Linked DNA regions of Homo sapiens. The protein of the gene in region 3 interacts with the protein of the main gene of each other region in a biochemical or structural test. Each region holds a gene or a part of one and is shown on either strand. Other genes may lie near its edges. The genes, in order: CD82, MARK4, NLRP3 and HERC5.

The links.
Region 1: the proteins of NLRP3 (region 3) and CD82 form a complex in vitro, tested with the Homo sapiens proteins (one study listed by BioGRID).
Region 2: the proteins of NLRP3 (region 3) and MARK4 form a complex in vitro, tested with the Homo sapiens proteins (one study listed by BioGRID).
Region 4: the proteins of NLRP3 (region 3) and HERC5 form a complex in vitro, tested with the Homo sapiens proteins (one study listed by BioGRID).

Annotation. Positions count from the first base shown.
Region 1 is NC_000011.10:44,610,640-44,617,664, forward strand, and holds part of CD82 (CD82 antigen), read left to right. Parts: intron 1-4,632; coding exon 4,633-4,734; intron 4,735-7,025. UniProt on the Homo sapiens protein: Structural component of specialized membrane microdomains known as tetraspanin-enriched microdomains (TERMs), which act as platforms for receptor clustering and signaling.
Region 2 is NC_000019.10:45,247,124-45,254,288, reverse strand, and holds the start of MARK4 (MAP/microtubule affinity-regulating kinase 4), read right to left. Parts: upstream 3,019-7,165; 5' UTR 2,701-3,018; coding exon 2,650-2,700; intron 1-2,649. UniProt on the Homo sapiens protein: Serine/threonine-protein kinase. Phosphorylates the microtubule-associated protein MAPT/TAU. Also phosphorylates the microtubule-associated proteins MAP2 and MAP4.
Region 3 is NC_000001.11:247,440,165-247,447,189, reverse strand, and holds part of NLRP3 (NACHT, LRR and PYD domains-containing protein 3), read right to left. Parts: intron 3,219-7,025; coding exon 3,048-3,218; intron 2,540-3,047; coding exon 2,369-2,539; intron 1-2,368. UniProt on the Homo sapiens protein: Sensor component of the NLRP3 inflammasome, which mediates inflammasome activation in response to defects in membrane integrity, leading to secretion of inflammatory cytokines IL1B and IL18 and pyroptosis.
Region 4 is NC_000004.12:88,488,099-88,495,123, reverse strand, and holds part of HERC5 (E3 ISG15--protein ligase HERC5), read right to left. Parts: intron 5,959-7,025; coding exon 5,788-5,958; intron 2,113-5,787; coding exon 1,969-2,112; intron 960-1,968; coding exon 793-959; intron 1-792.

The DNA.
Region 1 (7,025 bases), on a different chromosome or scaffold from region 3:
GCACAGATCAAGGTCTGGTCATGTCTCTGCTGCTTTCTATCTATGTGATCTTGGGAAGTTGCTCCAACTCTGAGCCTCATTTTTCTCTTCTGAGAAATGGGGAGGAGGGAGACAGGGAAGACAGGGCTGGCTTCCTCGGCATTCAACCTATGCAGTCACACAGGATAATCTGCTGTTGCTGTATTGAAATTCTTTTTTTTTTCTTTTCTTTTTGAGATAGAGTCTTGCTCTGTTGCCCAGGCTGGAGTGCAGTGGGATGATCTCGGCCCACTGCAACCTCCACTTTCTGGGCTCAGGTGATCCTCCTGCCTCAGCCTCCCAAGTAGCTGGGACTACAGGCACACACCACCAGGCCCAGCTAATTTTTGTGTTTTTAGTAGAGATGGGGTTTCACCATGTTGGCCAGACTGAACTCGAACTCCTGACCTCAAGTGATCTGCCCATTTCGGCCTCCCAAAGTGTTGGGATTACACGTGTGAGCCACCACGCCCAGCTGAAATTCTTAATAATTTTTAAACAAGGGGCCCTGCATTTTTGCTTTGCACTAGGTGTAAATTATGCAGCTGGCCCTGGGCAGGACTCTTTATGGCATGTGACAGTGACTCAACTGAAAGTAGCCAGAGCCAGCAGAAGGCTCAGCTGGATCCCAAAGGCTGCTGCTGTCCCTATTCACCCTTCAGCCCTACCCTCCTCTGTTGGCTCCCTTCTCGGGCAGGCTGTCCCCAGTGGAGCCTGAGGGTAGCCCAGGTCCTCATCCTACCACATTGATGGAAAGAGGGCCGGGTATGTGAGCATGGGTCTCAAGCCCATCTCTGAACCACTCGCCGTGCCTGTGATGTGGATGGCACTGAGTGGCAGCCCAGGTCTTTTGCCTGCTTCTGGCATCGAGGGAGTGGGGCCTCCTCAGCTCCATGGAGAAATAGAAGGGTGGTTACATCCAAGGAGTGGGTTTCTGCAGGGCAGGCAGAAACAATGGAGCGGTCCCTGGGGGGATGGAGGGAGCTCATGAATGTCTTCTCCTGCTACCTCCCTGTCCTTTTTGTCTCAGTAGCTACCTGGTTGCCAGGGTGACCTCCCTGCACTCCCAGCACAGGCCTCCTGAGCATCAGCTCCAAGCTGAACCAGCCCCTGTGGCCATGGTCCCCGTGGCCCAGGTGTGTCCCTCAACCACATTCTGGACTGAAAGATGTTGTGGTGTTTCCATGGAAACCACCCATCTAGGTGGAAACCACCCAGCTTCCATCACCTTCTCATTTCAGGGAGGCTGGGAGAGAAACAGGGAAGTCCAGGCTGCTGTGACAACCACGCTGGGGTTTAAACAGAGCCTCAGTGCAACATGTTGTGAGGAAGCTGGGTGGGTGGGGAAGGATGTGGGAGAGGCAGCTTTCCGCACAGATGCTTCTAGAGAGCCCCTCCTTTCCACACCGTGGGGATCACCCACCCACTGGGGTTGAGAGGTGGACCCGAGATGTCAGATCACCTGGCAGACAGCCCCAGCTATGTGACTCAGGCAAACCACTTAGCTTTTCTGGGCCCTGGTTAAAACTGGGTATAGCCGTGTGGTTTAAATGCCAATAAAGCTTAATAGGTAAAAACCTGGGTTCTGAAATCAGCCAAGCCTGTGTGCAAACCTCACTTCTTCCGCATGTTGGCTGTGTGACTTTGGGCAAGTTAATTAACCTCTCTGGGTTTGTTTTCTGCATCTCTATAATGAGGGAATGGGGTGAATACCTAGGCCATAGGTCTGCTGTGAAGATTCAGTTGAGATAATACATTTAAAGTGCTTACCACAGCACCAGGTACATAACAAACATTTGATAAAAGTTAGCCACTATTAGTGTTGGGATTAATTACTGACAGGAAAGCTTTGTAAATTGCAGAACTCTGTATAAGGGCTTTTTTTTTTTTTTTTTAAATATCATGCTGAGAGCTTTATTGAGAGAAGGGCAGGGAGCGTCATCAGAGGCTGGTTTCCCAGCATTAATTTTTTTTTTTTTTTTTTTTTTTTTTTGAGATGGAGTCTGGCTCTGTCGCCCAGGCTGGAGTGCAGTGGCGTGATCTCGGCTCACTGCAACCTCCACCTCTCGGGTTCAAGCGATTCTTCTGTCTCAGTCTCGCGAGTAGCTGGGACTACAGGCACCTGCCATTCACACCCAGCTAATTTTTGGTATTTTTTTTTAGTAGAGATGGAGTTTCACCATGTTAGCCAGGATGGTCTCGATCTCCTGAGCTCGTAATCTGCCCACCTTGGCCTCCCAAAGTGCTGGAATTACATACGTGAGCCACCATGGCCAGCCCCAGCATTAATTTAACCAAGGGAGCTGGGTGAGGAGCCAGGGCTGCAGGTCCATCTGCAGGATATGGGTTCTCTGAGCACAGCGTTCATTCAAGGACTGCCCATGGGGAGCTGCTGGAAGCTCCACCAACAGGGTTCCCTGGGAGTCAGGCTCTGAAACCCCACCTGGAAGTACCTGTCTCATTTCTCCCAATTCTTCCTTCTCAGGAACCGAGGTGGGAAGGTGTGTGGCCTTCTCCTTGGCATCCCTGCCTTCTAGGGTCCCTCGCCCCCACTGCCTTGACCAGTCCAACCATGCATTTGCCCTGAAAGGTCTCTGGGCAAGGTCCATGTGAGAGGCTAGGTGGAGCCAGGCAGGGGCTGGCTCTCGGAGGCTCCCCTCCCACCCAGGCCTGCTTATCGCCGAGGGAGGCCCTGCCCTCAGCGGGCTCTGGGTTTGCCTCCTTTTGCACAACTGACTTATTTAGAAACCCCTTCTCTGCCTGCTTTGTAAATCAGTGTTTTCTCTGTGGGGTTAGCTGAGAGCAGGTGCTGCTCTCCACCACAAGAAGGAACCCTTAATTCCTGAGCAGGGTGAGGACCAGCATAGGCAAGATGTAGATTTGGGCCAGGCGAGGTGTCTCAGGCCTGTAATCCCAGCACATTGGGAGGCTGGGCTGGGTGGATCACTTGAGGTCAGGAGTTCGAGACCAGCCCGGGCAACATGGCGAGACCCTGTCCCTGCTAAAAATACAAAAATTAGCCGGGCATGGTGACTCATGCCTGTAGCCCCAGCTACCTGGGAGGCTGAAGTGAGAGGATTGCTTAACCCCAGGAGGCAGAAGTTGCAGTGAACTGAGATCCTGCCACTGCCCTCTAGCCTGGGTGACAGGGAGACCCTGTCTCAAAAAAACAAAACAAAGCAAAACAAAAAAAAAAAAGTGAGATGTTTTTGGAGCTCTGGGGCAAGTAGCCAGGTCCCAGAAAGGCAACTGACCTCACACTCCGGCTGGCTGGCACTGCTGGCTTGGGGCTTGGGAAGGGGTGAGGGAGGATCTTTTCTGTTTTGTTTTTTGTTGTTGTTGTTTTTGTTGTTGTTTTTGTTTTTTGTTTTTTGAGATGGACTCTTACTCTGTCGCCCAGGCTGGAGTGCAGTGGTGCGATCTCGACTCACTGTAACCTCCATCTCCTGGGTTCAAGCAATTCTCCTGCCTCAGCCTCCTGAGTAGCTGGGATTACGGGCACCCACCACCATGACTACATAGAGGGAGGATCTTTTGACCATATAGTTGATACCGAAGTTCCAGGTCCCTCAGTCTTGGGGCCCCCTCCAGGCATCTACCCTGCTGTCTTGGGGGCCCTGTTTGGAGAGGCTGCACTCTGGTCCTTGGAAGAAGGAAACTGAGCTGGGCTTTCCTCCCTGTCCCTCCTTCTCCCTGAAGCTGCCCTGTGGGAGGTGTAAGGATTCACCAAGAAGTTGCATGGGTCTGGCTCTGGTGCCTGGCAGACCATGGTGGTTAGGTGTGCATTCAGCATTCACGTACCCCACACAACTATTCTGTGCCAGGCTTGGCGCTAGCCACGGGGGACCCTGTAGTGAGCGTGCCAGATGTGGTCCCTGCCCCCACGGAGCTGATGTGCTAGTGGAGAGAGATGATAAGCCCTGAAAACCAACAAGCATGTAACGTCAGTGCTCTAAAGAGAAATACAGCATGCTTTCCCTTGTGGGATAAGGGAGGCCGGGGAGGGGTGGTTGATTGGTTGGGGGAGAGGGGATGGGGAAGGGCTGATATTTTGTAGAGTGGTCTGGTAAGGCCTTTCTGAGGAGGTGACATTGGAGCAGAGCCCTGAAGGAAGCAGAGGGTGAGCCATGTTAATGTCTAGGGGAAGAGCATTCCAGGCGGTGGGAACAGCAGGTGCAAAGGCCCCAAGGCAGGAGTGTGCCTGGCACAAAGACAGCACAGAAATCTAGTCAGTTGAAGCAGAGGGAGGAAGAACAGAGGACAGAAGGCCTGGGGAGGCAGACAAGTGGTGTAGGACCTCCTAGGCTGTTATGGGGACAATGACGGTGGGAACTGCCCTGGAGGTGGGAGGCCCCTACGGGGTTTTCAGCAGTGACATGAGAATATTGATGTTTACAGGGCCAGGCTGCTGCCAAGCGCAGAAGAGATAGTGGGGCAGGAGTGGTTGGCACTGCCTGCATCGGGCACCCTGGGAGCGCCAGGAAAGTGGCTGGAGCCATGAGCGTGTCCCAGGGTTGCTGAGGGGAACGGGGGGAGGCAGTTTAAGTAGGGGTGACCACAGGTGGGCACGGGTTTCAGGAAATCTGACCCTGACCTTTGTCCTCCCCCCTGCAGCTGAAGCAGGAGATGGGCGGCATCGTGACTGAGCTCATTCGAGACTACAACAGCAGTCGCGAGGACAGCCTGCAGGATGCCTGGGACTACGTGCAGGCTCAGGTGAGGTGGGGCGGGGCTGCAGGAGGCTCTCTGGCCTGGGTGTCCCTGCATTTGGGGCTCTGTGCACCCACATGTCTGGGACTGGCATCTGCAGTGCTCGTGTGTGCCTGACAGTTTGTAGGAGAGTGTGCTTCTATGGGGGCAGGGCACCCCAGTTAGCACCACAACTCCCTGCTCAGGGGGCCCAGAGACTCAGAGGCAGCTTCACAGCTCTGTGCTCCCATTTGTGGCCAGAGAGCATGGGGGCAGTTGTCAGCCCTCTTATCTCAAGCTACACTGGGGAGCGTTGGGAGCTCCACTCTGGGTTTTAGGAAACTGGGAGCCAAGGCTGATATGCTGAGAAGTCCCAGTGAAGGCTGCCTCTGGGGAAGGGCACTAGCTGGGGAGGTGTTGGGGAGCCTTCTAGGGCAAAAGGAGTATTTTAGCCAAATCTTGATACTGGTTTCGCCAGTATGTGCACATACGTAAAAATGCACCAAGCTGAATGTGTGCCCATTAGTTCATGTGTATTATACCTCCATTAAAGTGAGAGAGATGGATGGATGGATGGGTGGACAGATGGACGGACGGACTGACCGACTGACCAACAGATAGACTGACCAGGTTCCCAGCCTGTCTCAATAGTGATCCAATGACCACCTGGCTCTCCTTTCTTGTGGTCCCGGATGCTGCATGTGCCCTTGGCTGGGACCTGACATCTCTGATCTGCAATCCTGTGAGGGCGCAGGACACAGTGGTCACTTAGGGCCTGTTGACACCTCAGGGGAGGGATGTGGAGTACAAAGGGCATGGGCAGCAGGAGAAAGCCTGACTCAGCGGCACCAGGAGAGTTTGCAGAGAGGACACTCCATCTAGGTGACATGGACATGGCCATTTTCTCAGTGGAGGAAGGGGAGAGCGATGTTTTCTGGCCCTGACCGAGGAGATCAGGTGTGGGGGTTGTGGCAGCTGGAAGGCTTGGTGCACACAAGGAAATGTTTTGGTCGCATATGTAGTTTGACCCACAATTGCTGAGACTTTGCTAATTTTAGCAAAGTCTGGATGTCACCAGTGACATAAACCAGTGCCACCTGACAAGGGACCTGGGAGGAGAAGTGGGTCCCTTGGGAGGTGGTAAGCATCCTACCCTGGAAAGTCATTGGCTGGTTCTAGATGATTCTGATGCTGTCAGATGCTGCTTAGGCCGGTGGTAAGTCAGACTCCCAAGGCCTGGAGTGCTAACACTGCCACAGCCGCTAGACCTTTGCTGAGCCTGCTTCCTCATCTATACAATGGGGCTACTGACCCATGCCGTGTGAGATACATTGTTAAAGCCTGAAGCACTTAGGCAGCATTTATTATGTGGTATGTTGGTGGTGATGTTTTAGTCACCATGCACATCCATGGAGACACAGGCGGAGGTGGCGTGTGCTGCTGGGGACCAGGTACAGCCGGAGTCAGGCCAAGGGGTTGCTTGGAAGGAGGCTCTGTCGTAGACGGGCCAAGGAGACCTGCCTCATTTTGCTCTGGTGTAGGATGGCCTGTGGGTGCCCCCAGCCTTGCAGACCTGTGCACCCCTCAGAGGTGCCAGCCTTTTCTTGGAGAGAGGAGGCAGCCCGGCTGCTGGAACAAGCACCTGTAAACCTGGATTAGAAACTGCCTGGAGCTGAGCATTTCTGAGTGTGCCTGGCACGCCCCCTGCTGGCCACTGGCTACTGGTCAGGCGACACCCCTCGGAGCTAGGAAGGAAGCGGTCCAGGAACTGACCCCTGCTGTGACCGTGGCTATCCCATTGAATCCTCCCAGGAACCCCCAGCATTGCGGGGATTCACACACAGAGACCTCCTTTAGCACACAGAGCCCGGAAAGGCTTTCTTCTCTCTAGAACTAGAGCATTTTCTCCTTTAAAATGGCAGAATTGACCAGCTAGCCAAGGTGGCTCACACCTGTAATCCCAGCACTTTGGGAGGCCGAGGCGGGCGGATCACTTGAGGTCAGGAGGTCAAGACCAGCCTGGCCAACATGGTGAAACCCCGTCTCTACTAAAAATACAAACATTAGCCGGGCGTGATGGCGAGTGCCTGTAATCCCAGCTACTCAGGAGGCTGAAGCAGGAGAATCGTTTGAACCCTGGAGGTGGAGGTTGCAGTGAGCCAAGATCACGCTGCTGCACTCCAGCCTGGGTGACTGAGCAAGACTCTGTCTCAGAAAAAAAAAAAAAAAAAAAAAAGGCGGAATTGACCCCGTCTCCTTTTTCACTTTTCACTTTTTTTCCTTTTCACCAGGAAGCTCAGAGGCAAATCTCAACTCCT
Region 2 (7,165 bases), on a different chromosome or scaffold from region 3:
GGTGACAAAGCCCCTGGGGGCCGGGGGTGGGAGCTAAAATTGGCCTGCACCACCAGCTGGCCTGGCTCCCTCCCGCCCGGCTGGCGCCCCAACACCCGGGACTGTTGCTAGGGAACCTGGGGAGGCTGGCCCCCTGGTGGGGGGCCCTGGAACTTGGGGTGGGGGAGCATGACCCCACGTGGCTGTAGCCATGGTAACCAGGTAACAGGAGAGGGGGCTGCAACCTCCCATTCCAGAGGCAGGCAAGTGACTCCCCACCAGGACTGACAGGCAGGTCTTAGTGACAAGAGTTGGAGGAGAGAAAAGGGGATTAGCCATCCTCAAATCCGCACCATGCACGCATCTTAACAACCCAGGGAACAGCAAGTCTTCATTAGGCGTTCCACTTAACAGACAAGGAAACCAAGGCTCAGAGAGGTAAGGTTACTTGCCCGAGGTCACACAGCTAGGGAGGGACAGAAACAGGATGTGAACCCAAGTTTATCTGAACAATTAAAGTAGTGCTAATAACCACAACAGCCACGACACATGCCAGGCCCTGTGCACCTTAGTCACATCACGTCGCTGGCTCCTGCAAACATCCCTAACAGTGGGGGGCCATCATCAACCCGATTTAGAGATAAGGAAACTGAGGCTGCAAGCTGGGAGTGAATCTGCAGGCTCACTCAACAACCAATAACAGCCCTGAGCTGAGAATCCACGGGCTGTCTGACTCATACCCACAGCCACAATAGCAGCTGGCATTTGTGGAGTGCTTCCTAGGTGCCAGCCTTCGCCTGAATCGAGTAAGCCTTGGAGGCACTCAAGCGGTCACCCCTATTTTCCAGGGCAGGAAACTGAGGCTCAGAAAGGGAGAACTGGTTGTCTGAGGACACAAGGCAAACCAGCTGGCCATGTCAGCATTGGAACCCAGGACTGTGGAGCCCCTGGCACCTCACTGTAGATTGTAGTGACCAAGGAACAGAGGTGGTAGGCATTTCATTAGACTCCAAATTGGAGTTCTGGCCCATAGTGATGATGCGGGGTGGTCTCTGTGAGGGAGGGATCTGCAAGATGAGGAAGGGACAGATATAAATCTCTCTGATGGTGTGTGTGTGTGGGGGGGTCTGTCGGAGGTGAGGGAAACAGGGGGAAGGGGAACAGGGACCTGGCAGAAGGATTTGGAGAAAGCCACAAAGATCCCAGGTGGGGAGAAGTCTAGGATTGGGTGGTGGGCAGGTCTTTGGAAGTGATCAGTGATCAGAGACACAGGAGATGGGGAGGGGCCTCTCTGGGAAGCAGTGTAGGGGCAGGGGGCGCCTGGGAATGGTGGAAAGTGACAAAGCCATGGGGGCAGTGGAAGTCAGAGGCCAGGAATCCCTGGGTCTTGGGGAAGCTCCTAGGAATCAGAGAAGGGGGCTTCTAGGAGAAGTCCTTGAAACCAGAGAAGGGTCTGGGGGGCCTGGAAGTATGGGGTAGGAACTTCTTGGGCAAGGAGCAGCCCAGATGAATAAAGGCTGAGCCCTGGGGAAGGTCAAGGGGTCTAGAAATTTGGGGAGAAAGCTTCCAGCAGATTGACCCAAGGGAAAAGGGCTTGAAACCAGGGCAAGACGAGAGGCTTCAGGTCCAGGAGTTTTCTGGAAGAAGGATCTGGGGCCAGGCCCTGTAGCTGAGGAAGGCCTCTGAAGCTGAGGAGGGGGCTTCCTTGGAAGGCCAGACTCCCAGCAAGGAAGGGGGAGGCCCTGGGGCAGGAGAAAGGACGGTGGTTTGTGGGGAAGGGGTCTGAGTTTGGCCTAGCAGGGGGTCCAGAGGTTGGGGGTTGGGGAAGGGGCTGCCTGAAGCTGAGAAGTTGATAGAGGGCGGATGAGGCCTGGAGTCAGACTGGTCCAGGGCCTAGAAATACCAGCCTGGGTGAGGTGAGGGCCTAGAAGTTGGAGGCCAAGGCTTCCTGGGAGAGGAAGAGACCAGAAAGGGTCCAGGTGGCATCTGGGGGCCCCGGGGTGCTGGGATCTAGGGACAGGGCTGCTTGGAAGATGGGGACCAGGCCTGGGACGGGAGAGACCTTGAAGAAGCCAGAAAAGGGCCGGGGCCCAGGAGAGGTGGAAACCAGCTTCCTGCCAGGGGCTGCCCACAGGCGCCCTGGGTGCGTCCTGGAGGGGCAGAGGGCTGGGAATAAGAGGAGGGGGGCTCCTGGGGAGCCGGCACCCAGCCCCAGACAGGGAAGGCCGGAGCCAGAGGCAGGACTGGGCCAGGCCCTGCTGAGAGTGCCAGGGCCGGGCCTTGGGGGGTCAGGGGCCCTGCAAATCCGGGAGGGGGCGAGGTGTCGGACGCGGACGGCCTGGAGGGGAAACGGCTTAGCACAGGCAAGAGAAGGGAGGGGCTCCTGGAAGCAGGGGAAGGGGCTTCCTGGAGGGAACAGACCCGAGCGGAAGCGGTCTGCACGGGGACAAGAGAGGGGTCCCGAGAGAGGGGCGCCCCCAGGGGTCGGGCTGGGCTGGAAAAGGTGGGGAGGGTGGAGAGGCCTGGAAGTCCGGGAGGGGTCGAGAGGTGACGAGCCGGGTCGGGCCCAGGAAACGAGGGTAGGGGCTCGCGGGGCGAGGGGTACAACGGGGAGAAGGGTTTGGCGGCTGGACCCAGCCAGGGCTCCCCAAGGGGCCGGGCCCCACTCACCGTGTCCGAGTTCCGATCGTTGCCCGGGGCCAGCACCGTCCGCGAAGACATCTTCTCCGGGTCCCGGGGGGCAGGGGCGGCCGGGTGGGGGGGGCGGGGGTCCCAGGGTCCCCTCTCTTCCCCTCCCCCCCCGCCGGCCTGGGGACGCGAGCTCAAAAGCTGGGCGCCGAGAACGCCCGGGTCCGCGCGGCGGGAGAGGGGGCAGGGCGGGGGAGGGGAAGGGACGCCGAGGGTCCTAGTGGCCCCGTGCAGCGGGGACCCCGGGCGCCATGGGGGCGGCGGGCAGGCGGGCGGGCGGGGGCCGCGGAGGGGGCGCGGAGCCGGCCCAAGCGGCGGCGGAGGGAGGCGGTGGAGGGGCTGGGGAGGGAGGAAGGGACGTCAGGGGGAGGGGCGGGCAGGGCGGGGCGCCGGGACCCCGCCCCCCGCCGCCGGCCCTTAAAGGCGCAGGCCCGGGCTGGTCGGGGCGCCGGGGGCTCCGGGGGCTCCGGGGGCGGAGGCGGGTCTGGGCACGCCGGCGGGGAGCGTGTTCTCGCCCGAGACGAGAGGCGCACTGGAGAGGAGAGAAGGGGAGAGAGAGGCCGGGGCAGAGCGCCAGAGACGCAGAGAGAGAGATCGAGAGACGTAGAGATAGAGAGACACGAAGAGAGAGAGACGAGTTACAAAAGGGTGGAGAGGCGCAAGGAGATGAAGGAAGAGCCAGATGACAGAGAGAGAGAGACGCAGGGAGACAGAGACAGAGAGACCCAGAGACGCAGAGGGACAAAGACTGAGAGAGACCCCACACACACACAGGGAGAGACAAAGAGATACAGAGACGCAGAGATCTGTGAAGAGATAGAGATAAAGGGACTGAGCCAGAGAAGACCCCAGAGGCGCTGCCCACATTGTCCCTCCCCCTGGCCCATTCTCTCCCCAGTTGGCGGGGGGGAGCGGGGGAAGCTCTCCCCTCGGAGGCCTAAGGGTGGGGTGGGTGAAGGGGATGGTGTGCGGGGCTTGGCCACTGCTGAGGGCTCAGTGACCTCCCTAGTCAGGCTGCCTCCACTCAGCCACATAGATCCAGACCCGCAGGTTGGGGCTGCAGCATCCACTCCTTTGCACCCCAGCTGGGGTGTGGGGACCCTCTCTGTCCACCTGTATGACCCGGGGCAAGCACTTGCCCTTTCTGGGCTTCACTTTCCCAGTTTGTAAAGTGAAAGGAAGAATCCGTGTGTTGCTCACTGGCAGGTGCGAAGGAACCCTGTGCAGGTATTCGCCTGCAGGGCACAGCCACTCCCCATGCGGGCAGGCTGAGACCAGAGAGGACAAGAGCCTCTCGGAGGCCACACAGCGCTGTGGGGACCATCCATGCTCTGTGGACCAGGGTGGGATGAAAGAAAGACAGGCATTACATAGTCTTGGCCTGGGAGTCACATGGTTTTGGGAAGGGGTCTGTGCCCTGCCTTCTTCTATCTGAGGCTTATTTTCCTGAGCCTCAGTTTCCCCTTCTAAAACAGCAGTGTGCTGGATCTGGCTGGAGCGAGCTGATTGTTATGTCTCAGGAATTTTGGAACTGGTTGTTAAACACAGCCATTATTAAAAATTAAATTATGCAAACATACAATTAAATTACATTAAAGGTACAAGTAATACATACTCATCACGTCCTAGTTATCTTACTACATTTGCCATTATCTGTGATCTTGAGGTTACCTACGTCTATTGTAGCTGCACAGTAAAATTACTATATAATGGGGGGCAAAAATGCCATGTGATATCACCTTGGTAGCTTGAAATTAGCCATGGTGGGAATATTTACACCATGGAAATTGGCAAATGCTACAAATTAAGGCTCCACACCCCCACCTGCAGAGAGCTGGGGGTGTTTTGTTTTGCTTTGCTTTGTTTTGTTTTTGAGACAGGGTCTCACTGCATTACCCAGGCTAGAGTGCAGTGGCACGATTATGGCTCACCGCAGCCTGGACATCCCCGGCTCAAGCAATCCTCCCAGCTCAGCCCCACCAAGTCACTGGGACTACAGGTGTGCACCACCACGCCCAGCTAATTTTTTGTAGCCATATTGCCCAGGCTGATCTCCAACTCTCAGGCTCAGGCGATCCTCCCACTTCGGCCTCCTAAAGTGCTGGGACTACCCTGCACTCAGCCAAAAGCTGGTTGTGAAAGCACAGCACTGCTTGATACTATGAGCAACACAGACTCATGGCAGTTGCCCTTGTGCCAGGCTCTGAGCAGTTTCTCCTTTCTGCCACCCCAAGAGGTAGGGAGCATCTTTATCAATCCCATTTGCAGATGAGGAAACAGAGGCCCAAGGAAGGGAGAAACGTCACACGCTGAAGGTCACACGGCAAATTAGTGGCAGGGCTACAATTTGAATCCAAGTGCTCCCAAGTTCCAGAACTTGGACCCTCTCTCAACCACTGTGGTTTCCTGTCTCCGAAAAATAATAGCAGCAACCTCAGGCTGCTACTATTTTTATTTGTCAATTTGTTTATATTTATTTGTTATTTTAATGTTACTGCTAACAAATAAATGAGAATCTTTGAGTAAAGTGCTTCACAGGGGACCAGATTCAAAATTCATATGTGGGGACATTATTATTACTATTTGGCAAATATGGCCCGAGGAGCCTCAGGGACAGTGGCAGAGAGGGTGGAGTTCCGGGGTAGTGTTCTAGACGTACTGTGATCCCAGGGACGCCGCAGGGTGAAAGTGGGGGTCTTGGGGGTAGGCTAGAGGGGCTGAGCGCCCCCAACCCGTTCCCTGCATTGGCGCTGAGAGCTGCAGTTCTACCGTGCACCACACGGGGGCAGCCGATCACCTCCCTACACGCGCCCCACACACTCCAGGGTCCACCCCTGCCCTCCCTTCCCCAACAGCGTCCCCACCCCATTTCCCAGATGTGGGGGGACCGAGGCTTACAGAGAGGGAGGCTGCAAAGTGGATGAACCTTGAAAACAGCATGTGGCCGGGCGCGGTGGCTCACGCCTGTAATCCCAGCACTTTGGGAGGCCGAGGCGGGCGGATCACGAGGTCAGGAGATCGAGACCACGGTGAAACCCCGTCTCTACTAAAAATACAAAAAATTAGCCGGGCGCGGTGGCGGGCGCCTGTAGTCCCAGCTACTCAGGAGGCTGAGGCAGGAGAATGGCGTGAACCCGGGAAGCGGAGCTGGCAGTGAGCTGAGATCGCGCCACTGCACTCCAGCCTGGGCGGCAGAGTGAGAATCCGTCTCAAAAAAGAAAAAAAGAAAACAGCATGTTTAGCGAAAGAAGTCAGACGCAAAAGACCACTTACTGTATGCTTCCATTCATATGAAATATTCAGAATTGGCAAATCCATAGACAGAAAGTAGATTAATGGTTGCCAGGGGTTGGAGGCTGGGGAATGAGAAATGACTGCTGATGGGTACCAGGTTTCTTTTTGGGGTGATGAGAATGTTCTGGAATTAAATAGTGGTGACGCTTGCTGCAACCTTGTGAATATACTAAAACCTACCGGACTCTGTTTGAAAAGGGTGACTCTTATGTATGTGAATTGTATTTCAATAAAAAATAATAATAAAATTTAAAAAGGGGGCTGGACGCGGTGACTCACACCTGTAATCCCCGTACTTTGGGAGGCCAGAACGGGAGGATCACTTGAGCCCAGGAGTTCGAGACCAGCCTGGGCAACATAGTGAGACCCTGTCTCTAAATCAAAATAAAAAAAATAATTTTTAAAAAGGAGGGGGACGGGCACGGTGGCTCACGCCTGTAATCCCAGCCCTTTGGGAGGCCGAGGCGGGCAGATCACGAGGTCAGGAGATCGAGATCATCCTGGCTAACACAGTGAAAACCTGTCTCTACTAAAAAAAATACAAAAAATTAGCCGGGCGCTTGCAGGTGGCAAGCGCCTGCGTCCCAGCTACTCGGGAGGCTGAGGCAGAAGAATTGCTTGAACCCAGGAGGCGGAGGTTGCAGTGAGCAGAGATCACGCCACTGCACTCCAGCCTGGCGACAGAGCAAGACTCCGTCTCTAAATAAATAAATAAATAAATAAATAAATAAGGCGGGGTGGAAATCCTGCACGATCCCAGTACATGATGGGCCACTGCTGACCATGGGTCCGCGGTGCAGAGGCCGAGCTGGGGGGCAAGGCCTGTTCCTCTGCCTCCCGACCTGGTCATCCAGCTAGCCCTTCCTCCACAACCTATGTCTGGTGAATTCATTCCTTCAACTGGGGCATTCAGACCTTTGAATCTTAACCCTTGGATCCAGGAGGGAGCTGTGATCCCTAAGCCCAGCCCCCGATCCTAATGTTGACCCCAACCCTGATCCCAGCCTGGACTTTGCCTAGGCCAGTGATCACGCATCCCCCTCAGGCTGTGCCTGAGCACTTGAACACAGTTTATCTTATTTATTTATTTGTTTGTTTGTTTATTTGAGATGGAGTCTCACTCTGTCTCACAGGCCGGAGAGTGCAGTGGCACAATCTCGGCTCACCGCAACCTCTGCCTCCTGGGTTCAATCGATTTCTTCCG
Region 3 (7,025 bases):
GATTTTGGACTTTCTAGCCTCCAGTATTGTGAGATAATAAATCTGTGTTTGAGTCACACAGTCTAAAGCAGCTTGTTATCGCAGCCTGAGAAAACGGGTTGATTGCATTCATGGATTCTTCAATCTATTTTGAGCCTGTCCCTCAGCCTGGGTCCAGAATGTCCCTCAGGGCTAGGTCAGTGATGCTACATGTAGCAGTGTCCCCAGCTTTGACCTGACCAATCCTTTGTTTGTTCCCCCATCTCTCTTAGCTCTGGGAATATTGGCTTGTCCTGCAGCAAATGTGCTCCATTATGTTGGCACAAGGATGCAAGGCTGATTCAAACTTGTATTTATTCAAACCTGCATTCCAACAAGTTCTCAGCCTTGAGATCATTAATATGGACAGAAGTCCCTGGACTAATGGAATTTATATTTTGGGAGCAGAGATAGATAATAAATAAACAAGAAAATGACATAGCACATAAGATGTGCTACACTGCAGAGGAGAATGAGAAGAGAAGAAAAAGTGCTTCTATTTTCAGTAGAATAGTCAAAGACAGCCTCGCAGAGAAGACCTTTAAGCAGAGAATTTAGGAAGGTACAGGGAATAATGCAGGTGGATACTGAAGGGGAGAGAGTTCTAGGCCAGAAGAAAAGCAAGTGCAAAAATCCAGAGATGACAGTGTTCTTGCAAAACAGCAAGGAGATCACTGTACTGGGGCAGAATAAGCAAGGGTTGGGAGAAGCGGAATCTTCGGAAGCAGGAGAGGCTGGATTATGTGGGGCATGGAAGCCACCATGAGTTTGTTGCTCTGATTATGAAAGTGATAAGAAGACGATGTTGACAAGAGTGATATGATGCGAGTTACGTTTTAGCTGAATCCCTTGTCTGCTAAAATCAGAATAACAGATGCAGGGTGACCTGTCAGAATGCCACCATGACAATCCAGACACCAGGTGATGGTGGCTTGAGCCAAGGAAGAAGCCGTGAAGCTGGCCTGAAGTGGTCAGGGAGTGGCCAAGCTGGGAAGGCAGAGCTCACAGGATGTGCTGACACATTGGACATGATTATAAGGAAAAAGAGACAGTGACGACAGAACCAGAAATGTTTTGGCCCGAGCAACTTGGAGGAAGTGACCATCGACTGAAATGGGGAAGAATCAGGTTTCGGGTAGAAGAGAGTAGCAAGGGTGTGGATCTAGATGTGACGTTTGAGAGGTTTATTAAACCTTCAAGAAGAAAGATCAGCCAAGCACGGAGACACAGAATTTATGGACATATAATCTGGAGGCCACAGCACACATATCATGAAGCCAGAAGACCAGATAATTTAAATGAGGGAGAAAGTGTAGGGAAGAAAAATTAGCCCAGCGACTAAGCTCTGAGGATTCAACACATAAGGGTCAGGATGATGAAGAAGAGGCCAGAAAGGAGACTGAGTAGAAGGATCTGATGAAATAGGAGAAAACCCAGGAGAGCATGTTGGCCTTAAAGCCAAGCAGTGAAAACGTCTTCAGGGAAAAGTGCAATCATCACGGCTGACAGAACCGTGGGACTCGCCAGGAAGCTCTTGCTAGAGAGGAGACGACTACCTCAGTAGTATCACAGAGGTGGGCTGGCAATATCCTGACACACTGTCGAATTTCGTGTAATTTCCCATCTTGCTATTCCTGGAGCACTCTTTTCCCATTTAGAAATCCTCAGAAACCGCCAGGCACGGAGGCTCACACCTGTAATCCCAGCACTTGGGGAGGCCGAGGCAGGCAGATCACGAGGTCAGGAGATGGAGACCATCCTGGCTAACACAGTGAAACCCCAACTCTACTAAAAATACAAAAAATTAGCCGGGTGTGGTGGCAGGCGCCTGTGGTCCCAGCTACTTGGGAGGCCGAGGCAGGAGAATGGCGTGAACCCGGGAGGCGGAGCTTGCAGTGAGCCGAGATCATGCCACTGCACTCCAGCCTGGGCGACAGAGCAAGACTCTGTCTCAAGGAAAAAAAAAATAAATCCTCAGAAACAAAACAACAAGATCCCCACTATGTAAAGACCCTTCCAATTTGGATGACCCATAGACGAGTTCTACGAAGTTCGGTTCCTTGTGTAGAACAGAATCCTCCTTGGCCATGATCGCATGAGGGCTTGTGTTTCTTTGGGGAATGTGGGTGAAATCCAGCTTAGCCTTGGTGATTCTAACCATCTCAGTGAAGTGGAATGTGTAGTTTAACCCCATATTCTCTATTTTAAAATATCCACCACAACTGACCCAGGCCCAACCTAATCTTGAGTGGCTGCAAATGAAGCGAGAGCCATCCTGGATTTTGATAACAGTCAACGTTTCCTGAGAACTCAGAGTCCCACCACGGGCATCTCTGCAGAGCACACTCACCCCAGGTTCTGCAGGAGGCAGCTCTGCTGTTTCAGCACTTCACAGAACATCATGACCCCCAGGTCGCCCAGGTCATTGTTGCCCAGGCTCAGCTTTCGCAGGCTCTGGCTGGAGGTCAGAAGTGTGGAAAGATCCCAGCAGCAGTGTGACGTGAGGTTGCAGTTGTCTAATCTGCAAAAAGGGGGTGATTTAAAGAAAATGTCCCCTTAACCATCCCCCTAGCTCCCCAAGATTTTAGCATCTTAGCCTGTCTTGTTTCAGGTGGAAAAAAAAAAAGCACAGGAGCACAGGACTAACTAGCTTCAAGCAGCCTTGTATGCTGGTAATTATTCTTCTCTCTCTTTTTCAAATCCACTGCATTGCACAGATCAAATTAGTAACAGTGGTTTGTTCATTGATTTACCAAATTCTGTGCCTTTCCCTACATTTCCATAAAATGTAAGTGTCATACTGCCCTCCTTGTTTTGTGGTACAGAAAACTGTGATGGTAAGGACTCAAGTTCCTACATCTATATCATCTGGAAGGACTCCTCCCAGTCCCATGATCCTGTAACAAGGCAAACACTAAGAAGACACCTCACTTCTAAGATACAGATTATCTTGTGGCCACTCTGCCTAAACGTCCCTCCACCCTTGGCCACCATGTGTTCTCATTGCTGTAATAAACCAAAGGACTTACTCCAACACCTGAAGCTTGCAGTCGGGGTGCAAGAGTCCCTCACAGAGTAGTTTGATCCCCTTGTCTCCGAGAGTGTTGCCTCGCAGGTAAAGGTGCGTGAGATTCTGATTAGTGCTGAGTACCGAGGACAAAGCTGAACAACAGACTGACGTAAGGCCAGAATTCACCAACCTGTAGAAGGACAGGGAGAAGAGTCCTCAGTACCCAGCTGTTCCCCAACATTGTGCAGCTGCTTTGACTCAGTGCCTCGTCCTCTCTCAGCAGCTGCAGCCTTCAGCTCAGAGAGCAGGAGCCAGCATCTCAGATATGATCTGGGGAGAGCAAGACCTGCTGTCTCTGGCTGTCACAGGAGACACAAATGATGTCTCAGCAGATGCTTTGCTGTATGAGTCCGACAGAAAGAGCCAAGGCAAACTGAGCCAGTTACCCCATACTCCTCCTCCTCCTCACACAGCTTTCCTCCGGCCAGGAGTGCTCCTCAGCACCACTTCTTCCAGAAACACATCCCAGTGGTTATCCTCAACTAATAATCCCCGTAACACTGCAGACACCCACACTGCAGGGGCCTTTTTTTTTTTTTTTAAGAGAGACAGGAAAAAAAAATCCTCCTCATGGGAAGTCGGTGCTGATTTAAACATCAAAGACAACAGGTGAACGTCCATTGTGACCTTCTAAGCTGTAGCTAGGGCTGTGACAGGAACACGGCGGGGCCCTTAGCAATTGCCACCTCCCGCCTTCCTGCGCCCCCAAATGCCCCTTTCACATCTTTCTCGCTGCAGCCCTCAACCACGTTGGAGAGGTGGGAGGATCGCTTGAGTCCAGGAAGTCGAGGCTGCAGTGAGCCATGATTGCGCTGCCACACTCTAGCCTGGGTGACAGAGTGAGACCCTGCCTAAATAAATAAATAAATAAGGCCAGGTGCAGTGGCTTATGCCTGTAATCCCAGCACTTTGGGAGGTCCAGCACTTTGGGAGGGTGGATCACGAGGTCAGGAGTTCAAAACCAGCCTGGCCAACATGGTGAAAGCCCATCTCTACTAAAAATATAAAAATTAGTTAGGGTGGTGGTGGGCACCTGTAATCCCAGCTACTTGGGAGGCTGAGGCAGGAGAATTGCTTGAACCTGGGAGGCAGAGGTTGCAGTGAGCCGAGATTGCCACTGCACTTCAACCTGGGCAACAAAGTGAGACTCTGTCTCAAAAATAAATAAATAAATAGAAAAAGCCAGGCTCTTGCTCAGTCACCCAGGCCAAGTGCACAGCTCACTGCAGTCTTAAACTCCTGGGCTCAGACAATCCACCCACCTTGGCCTCCCAAAGTGCTGGGATTACAGGCATGAGCCACTGTGCCTGACCCAGAGACCAGTCTTATTTGATTATTATATCAACCTGGCAAGGAAGGAGTGCAGCTAAAACTATTACATACATTTTACATATTAGAAATCTAAGGCTTATAAAAATTACATGTTTCTCTCAAGGCCACAGAGCAGGTGTGTGGTGGGGAGGGATCCAGACCTGGACTTTCCACCTTTTAGTCTCATCTTCTCCCCACTGCCCTTTCTGTCCACCTCTCTCTTCCTTCTGCACAGCAAAAGGCCTTTTAGAGCATAAAACCCCAAAAATGCATCAATCTCGATGGAATTAAGAGTTTTGATGTACTATTCTTGAGTCAAATTAAGCCCATTCTATCACCCAGGAAGAGCATAAGAGCTCTAAAATCACTGGTGGCGTAATTCCTAGGAGCACAGATGCTTCTATTCCATGAAGCCAGGAATAGCGCAGGTGATTGCCTCCTTCCTGCCAGAGTCCTTGGCAATGGCATGTTTTTTAAGCTCTTTGGTGTCTACGAGGCAGGAAAAATAGAAATACAGAAAAAGTGTATTCAGACAGTAAAGCATGAACAGATGACCAGCAGGAAAAAGTGATTATCCATCCACTGGTTTCTATCTTCCCAATTAAGGAAGAGTCAAACTGAAAAGACACAGTAAGTAAGACTAATAGGCAAATGAAGCCCAAGAGAGACAGACAAAAACAAAGCAAGTTTTGAGTGGCTTCTACTAAGCTCTCATCCCCGGTAAGAATTCTATCAGAGGGTTGTTGTTAATTAACATGCAGAAGGGATTAGTAGCATTCCTGGCAAAGGCCAGGGACATTCTAGTAGAATGGGGATGGTCTTCAAAGAGGAAAAGAGAAAATATTTTTTAAATTATGTAATTAAAGTTATGCAGGCTTTACCACTATTTCCAAAAAGGAGTAGAATGGATTATTCAACAGATGTTTGGGGAGCACTACACAGTAGTAGTAGAAATTGCAACAGACGGTGCAGTTTTGTTAAGAAAACGTCATATCCAAATTGTGAAAATGCTGGTAACTATTAAGCAACGGTTACACTGAACACATAATAAAATGTTTAAAGAATCAAACAACCATGTCCCACCAACCAATCCTTGGATTAGAGGAATGTGATTGACATCTCGATTTCAACCAATCCACCTAACTGAGCTCTACATTTACCAAGCACGGATATCTTGCCATGTACTGTATTAAGTTAATTGGTTGGGGATTTTTATTTATTAACTACCTGCCTATGTCACAAAACTGTCTCATAATGAAAACTGAATCCCAGTGCTTTGGGAGGCCAAGGTGGGAGGACCACTTGAGGCCAGGAGTTTGAGACCAGCCTGGGCAACATAGCAAGACCCTGTCTCTACATAAAAAATTTTAAACATTTTAAACATTACCCAGGCATGGTAGTACACACCTGTAGTCCTAGCTAGTCAGAAGGCTGAGGCAGGAAGATTGCTTGAGCCCAGGAGAGTTCAAGGCTACAGTGAGCTATGATCCTACCACTGCACTCCAGTCTGAGCCACAGAGCAAAACCCTGTCTTAAAAAAAGAAAAGAAAAGAAAGGAAAATAAGGAAAGGAAAGGGGAAAGGGAAAGGGGGGGGGGAGGGGAAGGGAAGGGAGAAAGAGAAAGAAAGAAAGAGAGAGAGAGAGAAAGAAAGAAAGAAAGAGAAAAAGAAAAAGAGAGAAAGAAAGGAGGAGGAGGAAGAAGGAAGGAAGGAAGGAAGGAATCTGAAGAAGAAGATCAAACATTTTTTGAGTATTTATTGTGTGCTTGACATGGATGACGACTTTAAACAGGGTTATCTCATTGAATGATCACAACCTCAAGATGGGAATGTTAGTTTTATCCCTGCTTTTAAATGGACAAAATGAGGATCACAGTAATTAAAAAATAAGTAGGAGCTTCTTAGATGGATAGTAGAAAGTGGGAAAGTGGGGGTAACCTTCCAGGCAAAAGGAAAAGAGTAGCAAGAATAAGGAAGATTAAAAGAACCACCAAGATGTTTCAAAACTAATTCATAGCTGGGCACAGTGATGTCCACCTATAGTCCCAGCTACTTGGGCGGCTGAGACGGGAGGATTGCTTGAGCCCAGGAGTGCAGATGAGATCAGGCACTCTGGGTGGTATGGCTGTAGATGAACCCAGGAATTCAAATTCAGCCTGAGCATCATAGCAAGTCCCCATCTCTAAAACAGCAAAACAAAACTCATCCAATATGACTCAAAATGGAGTGCAAGGTATGGCAGGAGAGAGGGCAGTATCAGGGACAGCCTTGTGTGCCAAGCTAAGATGTCACTCTGACTGCAGAGAAGAACTTTTGAAGATTTTTGAACAAAGGGTCAATATTTTCAAATTTGCATCTTAAAAAGTTCCCTCTGGTGTAGTGATGAGTGGTAGAGGGAACCGAAAGCAGAGCATTTAGGACCGTCCCCCGTTTACTCACTCAGCAGCCTCCTGGAAAGCCCCACTATTCAATGAGGCAGGAGGAAGAGGGCAGGAGCAGGTCAGAGAACGGGGGTGGAAGGTGGGGTATGATAATTAAACCAATGTTGCAAATGCTCAGCATGTGTGACCCTTGAGCAGTATTGAGACAGGCAGTACACAATATGCAGCCAGAGATGAGGACCCAAA
Region 4 (7,025 bases), on a different chromosome or scaffold from region 3:
ATCCTTGCATGGTTGTGTATTTCTGAAAGTTAAATGTCTAGAAGTAGAATTGTTGAGTTGAAAAGGCAAATATGTTTTGATTTTGCTAAGTCCTGCCACACTGTTCTCTGAAAAGGAGTACCAATTTATATTTCCACGAATAATACCTGAAATTAAAATGAAAGTTTTCAAGCCCTTGCTAATACTATATAGCATCAACACTTCAAACCACTGTCAACTTGAAGTATAAATTAGCCTCTCACGTTAATATGCATTCTATGAGCACTGGTGAGATTGAAGACATTTTTATTTAGGAAGCATTTCTATTGCTTCTTTGCCAGGTTGCCTTCTTGGATACTTTGTGAATATTTCTTACGGATGTGTAGGAATGCTTTACACAGCAGGGATATGAAAACCCTTTTACTGTTGCCATTTTTTGGTGAGGTGGTGGCTTGTCTTTTAACTTAGAAATAAGTTTCCATTTTAAAGGTGATGACATGAAACAACATTTAACATAAATATCACTAGCAGATTTTGCACCAAGGTGTAACCTGTGCTCTGTGCATGACTGTTCCTACACAGAAAAAGTTGAAAGATTAATGCAAACATTGAAGTCTAGTTATGGGAATAATCAACACTTCCTAATTTTAGAAAACGAAATTATCATCCAACAATTCTTGTCAAAGTTAAAACTGGTCTAAAGTACCTAAAATGCTGCTGTTGAACATGGAAATATTATGAAGCGTGTGTACTTAAATATTTGCCTAAATATATGTTAGAAAGGGTCCTTTCTCAGGAACTCTGTTTACTTACTTTCCCAAATCAGGACTGAGTTCTTTCAAGTCTTCCAATGATGGCATTTGGTCCAAAAGTTTCTTAAACAGTGCCAGTGGGAAAGGAAGGTTGGCAACATTGCAATTGAACAGGGAAAGTCCACATAGAACCCCAAAAAAGAAGTATCTTTTCTTCTCAAATTTAGGCTGAAAAGCGAAAAAAAAATCTTAAAGTATTATGAGTTTTTACCAGTACAATGAAATATTTATATTAAATAAATCTTTGTTTCTCTTTCATAAAATCAAATCTCAAATTGAAAAATTTAAAGCCTGAGATAAGAATGTTTAGGGTTTATATTAGGTTGGTGCAAAAGTAATTGCAGGTTTTGCCATTAAAAGTAAAGGCAAAACCTGCAATTACTTTTGCACCAACCTAATATTTGGTCATTAAGTCAATTTAAATCCCTGCCACTCTCACGCTTGTAATCCCAGAACTTTGGGAGGTCAAGGTGGACAGATAACCTGAGGTCAGGAGTTTGAGACCAGCCTGGCCAAACTGGTGAAACCCCATCTCTACAAAAAATACAAAAACTACCCAGGTGTGTTGGCAGGAGCCTGTAATCCCAGTTATTGTAATCCCGCCAGGCTGAGGCAAGAGAATGGCTTGAGCTTGGGAGGCGGAGGTTGCAGTGAGTTAAGATCATGGCACTGTACTCCAGCCTGGGTGACAGAGTGAGATTCTGTCTCAAAAATAAAGCAAAACAAAACAAACAAACAAATAAAAAACCAAATAAATCCCTGCCACAGTTTTGGTTCCTAAAAGCATACCAGCAATAAAAATACATTAGGTTCAGTAATCCTTATAAACTAGTTTTCACAATTTCTTTCCACAGCCTTTGTCTTCAAATTCATTAGGAAAACAGAACTGACACAAAGAATGAGTACCTAAAAAAGAGAGGGTTCCTTTTTAATCCATGCATTATATAAATGATCAAAAAATATATTGCTTGAGTTCGATGTGAACAGACATGGGAACCCAGGAAAAGGAAACTCCATTTTAAAGAAAATAATCACCTTATTAGAATTATACATTATCTCCATAATTATATCAATACTCCTCTTCTAACATGAAATAGTCTAGACAAACTAATTTTCTATGGTATATGGTGTACTTTTTCTGTCGCAAAATACCTTAAGCAAAGAAGAGGGAACTTACCTTGACAGGAAACCACATGCAGGAAGCCCCTTCAGGATACATGAACATCCCATATTCCGGCTGGATCATCTCTGCAAACAGACAGTAGAAGAACTCTTTCTTGACTCCTCCGAGGTCATACCCAATTTCTCCACTAAATGAAACCTGAGGAAACAGAGCAAATAATACATCACTTCCAGGGCTCTATATTGCTATATATGAAGTCTCATTTAATAATAGTAAATAGCTAACATTAATTGTGGACCCAAGTATTTGGAAGGCACTGAGGTAAGTATCCTACTTATATTATCATATTTAATCTCTACATTAATTCTATGAGATAACGAGGCCTTGAGAATTTAAATAACTTTTCCAAGTTTATACAATAGTCAGGTGGTGCAGCCTAGTTTTTTTGTTTTGTTTTGTTTTTTGAGATGGAGTCTCACTCTGTTGTCTAGGCTGGAGTGCAGTGGTCTGATCTCGGCTCACTGCAACCTCCGCCTCCTGGGTTTAAGCGATTCTCCTGCCTCAGCCCCCAGAGTAGCTGGGATTACAGATATGCACCACCACGCCTGGCTAATTTTTTTGTATTTTAAGTAGAGACGGGGTTTCACTGTGTTGGCCAGGCTGCTCTTGAACTCCTGACCTCAAGTGATCCACCCACCTCAGCCTCCCAAAGCGCTGAGATTACAGCCATGAGCCACCACACCCGGCCTACAGCCTAAATTTAATCCTTTATCAGTCAAACCCCAGAGCCTAAAGTTTTTACCACTTTAGGTAAAAGTTTTACCTAAATTGACCTCAACTGGCATCACTATTATAGTCACCAGATCCAAGTATAATAAAAATAAACAGAAAGAAATCATAAAAATTGGCCGGGCGTGGTGGCTCACACCTGTAATGCCAGCACTTTGGGAGGCCGAGGTGGGCGGATCATGTGAGGTCAGGAGTTCGTGACCAGTCTGGCCAACATGGTGAAACCCCGTCTCTACTAAAAATACAAAAATTAGCTGGGTGTGGTGATGCATACCTGTAATCCCAGCTACTCAGGAGGCTGAGGCAGGAGACTCACTTGAACCCGGGAGATGAAGGTTGCCATGAGCCAAGGTCGCACCACTGCTCTCCAGCCTGGGCAACAGAGTGAGACTCTGTCTCAAAAATAAATAAATAAATAATAAAAATCAGGATATTCAAAAAACCAGAGCACACATAAGGTGTTTGCTGAAGTGGCTGTTTGCTCCCCGAGGAGGCTGCACCCCTACTGCTGACACCAATCCCTCCCAAGAGGATGCTATCATAACCCATCTTTGCTCCTTCAGTCACCCCTCCATTCCTGCCTTTTCCTGGAATCCTTCACTTCCATTCACAAACATGTTAAGGTCCCCCTTAACCTTAAAAGGAAAAAAAAAATCCCAACACATTGTCTCCAATACAAACACGGGCTCCTTCCACTCTTGCCAAACTTCAGAGATATACGCCAACTTCCAAACCCACTTCTCCACTTAAATGGGTCTCTCCAAGAAGAACAAGAACTGTAAATCCCCAAGCTCCAAGGACTTTTTCTCATATCTCATCTCCTTGATTTCGTTAACTCATTTTCCACTTCTGATCATGTCCTTTTCCTTGACACAATCTTCTCCCTTGCTTTCTCCTATGAAGCACTCTTCACGGTTTTATTTATCTCTTCTTTTTCCTGCTGGCTTAATTTCTAGAAACAGAATTGCAGACAGTTCTATCCTAACACTTCTGTCCTTTCTCTCTGTTCTTTCCCTGGATGCTCATTTTCTCCTTAAACTTTGTTTACCACCCATACGTATTTAACCTTCAGATTCAGTGCATTTTCTCTCCTGATTGACAGTCACTTCCAACGGCCTGTTCAACATTTCTACCCAGATGTTATACTAGCATCCCCAGAAATCTCCTCTTACCAGTTTATTTATTTAGATGCTGCCTCTTCCATTCCTCTTGGTGAAATAGTGAAATACTAAAAATCTTTGTAGCAAGACCAGGTGTCAAACCCTTCCCCCTCTTCTTACTAAGGACAAGCTGCCCAACCTCATAAAACCTCAGTTTTCCCACAAGATTATCAGAAAGATTACAGGGGTCATACATGTAAAATGCCTCACACAGAGCCTGCAAATGGTAAATGCTGAGTGTTACCTGAATTTAAAAACTGAATGAACAATATATAAAAGTGGAACTCAAATAATCGAGTAGACTGACTGGCAAAGCATAGAATCACATAACGAGTCCATTAGAGTTATACAATTATCTGTGTGCAAAAATACATGGAAATACCAACTCTAACTGCAATATATATATTTTTTTCCTTGAGACAGAATCTTGCTCTGTCGCCCAGGCTAGAGTGCAGTGGGGTAATCTTGGCTCACTGCAACCTCCACCTCCTGGGTTCAAGAGATTCTCACTGCCTCAGCCTCCCAAGCAGCTGGGATTACAGGCGCCCGCCACCACACCCAACTAATTTTTGTATTTTTAGTAGAGATGGGGTTTCACCATGCTGGTCAGGTTGGTTTCGAACTCCTGACCTCAGGTGATCTGCCCACCTCAGTCTCCTAAAGTGCTAGGATTACAGGCATGAGCCACTGTGTCTGGGGCAATATGCTTTTAAATTGGTATCTTGAGACTTGGTAAAGTCAATCTTTCTTTAATCTGAGTAGGAGAAGTGATAAACTAAGGTCCCCAATAAAAAATACTCCATTTACTAAATATTATCAGGCCAATCTTTATCCGTCTTCATTAAGCAGAAAGTCTAGTGCTTAATGGCCAGGCCCAAATCCTCTGATGCTTATCAGTTGGGTTACTCTTGGATAAGTTACCTAATAGTTCTGTACCTCAGTTTCCCCATCTGTAAAATGAGGGAAAAACAGAATCTGCCACATAATGTTGTTGAAAGGGTTAAAAAATTAGGTATAAGGCACTTAAAACAGTTCTTGCCACAAGGACAGCACTCAAAAGATCTACTGGTCATTATGATTCAGTATCAAATATTTACTAATAAGACAAATTATATGGTAATTAAACAAAAAATCAGTTAAAGATCTTCCGAACATGGTCAAATCTACAATTATACCCCAAAATAACTGTAGGATTTAAAGAGAAAATTCTCTTTTCTACAAAGCAATTTAGGTTATTATTTTTGTTTTTTTTGAGACAGAGTCTCGCTCCGTCACCCAGGCCGGAATGCAGTGGCATGATCTCGGCTCATTGCAACCTCTGCTTCCTGGGTTCAAGTGATTCTCATGTTTCACCCTCCCGAGTAGCTGGGATTACAGGCACCCACCACCACACACGGTTCATTTTTGTATTTTTAGTAGAGACAGGGTTTTACCATGTTGACCAGGCTGGTCTCGAACTCCTGACCTCAGGTGATCCACCTGCTTCAGCATCCCAAAGCGCCGGGATTACAGGTGTGAGTCACCATGCCTGTCCCAATTTAGGTTATTGCATAAGAACAAAAACAACCCCTTAATTCTCCTCTATGCTAACCATCTCATTGAAACCCTTCAAGGGTGGTGCTAGCCAGGCTAGGCCAGACCTCAGAAGGGACTGGACCTCTTAGGGCCAACACTGAACTATCTACCTGAGCAGGGTGTGGGGAGAACAACCACTTTGCCTGCTGCTCCTTAGCCCAAACATACTGAGTGAGTGCCCACAGCTATCACCCAAAACTCAAAGGCAACTAGGGAATCAGAGGAACCCTAAAATAAACAACCTCTGTGGCAAAGGAAGATAACTTCCTCTCTATGAAACCCTTTGCCACATTCTTTTATGTTTTTCTTTTCTCAGCAGCAAAAACATTAAGTGAGAATTACACCTTACCCATAACTCTTTCCTCAGGTCTTCATTCTCAAATTGACTTAGCTGATTCAAAACATCCTCAATCAAGTGATTCCTTCTGACTGTTAGATCAAACGTGGGCCTCAAAGCGAATTCAGACTCTCTTTCTTCCTCAATTGCTGCCGACCTAAGATAAGCTTTATGTTTTTTACTCTAGGAAAACAGAAACAGAAATATTACACTTCATTTTACCATTGGCCCTCTCTAAGTAAAAATTTGGAAAGCAGAATAAACTGGTTCTGCTTATAAGTGCAGGTCACATTTATGAAAAGAACCTTATATGCACCACTGAAGATAAATGATAACATCAGTATTTAGTCTCAGTGAGCAGAGGAAACAAGGGACCTGAAGAATCAAAGCCTTTGTGGAGCCAAGCTGGATGAGCAAGTAAGTTACCAACTGCAGGTTTTAAAGGACCACTTTCTCCTATACACACAATTATTAATGCTTAAGATACCAAAGCTACTTATTAACAGGCTAAGAGATGTATTGGTATCCACTGAAACAGTGCACTGCAACATGATGCTCTCTCATTCCGAAGAGAAGTTCAGATGTTTAGAAAGCAAACAGGCTGCAGGAAAAAAAATCCAGGTTATGAGAGATGTCACCAAAGAGCCTACTCCAGGAAAAAAAAAACCAAGACAAGAGATTTTAAGGGAGAATTTACCTAAGAAGTTAATTGAAGAGAGACAAGCAGGGAGAGAGAGTGGGAGAGACAGACAGACAGACAGAATGTCCATTCTGAAACCAAATGGCAATTTTAGGTCATTAAAGTCTATGGTTCAGGGCCAGGCACGGTGGCTCACGCCTGTTAATCCCAGCAGTTTGGGAGGCTGAGGCGGGCGGATCACTTGAGGTCAGGAGTTTGAGACCAGCCTGGCCAACATGGTGAAACCCTGTCTCTGCTAAAAATACAAAAATTAGCTGGGTGTGGCGGCGGGCACCTGTAATCCCAGCTACTCGGGAGGCTGAGTCAGGAGAATCGCTTGAACCCAGGAAGTGGAGGTTGCAGTGAGCCAAGATCATGCCACTGCACTCCAGTCTGGGCAACAGAGGGAGACTCTCTCTCAAAAAAAAAAAAAAAGAAAAAAAAAGTCTATGCTTTTAGCAGAAAAAGGAGTAGTCAAATATTACTTCTACGAAATTATCTCTGGAACCTTGTTTAAAATCAGGAGAGAATAGGTTATAAGAGTTGAAGCAAAACAAAGTTCTTTTATCTT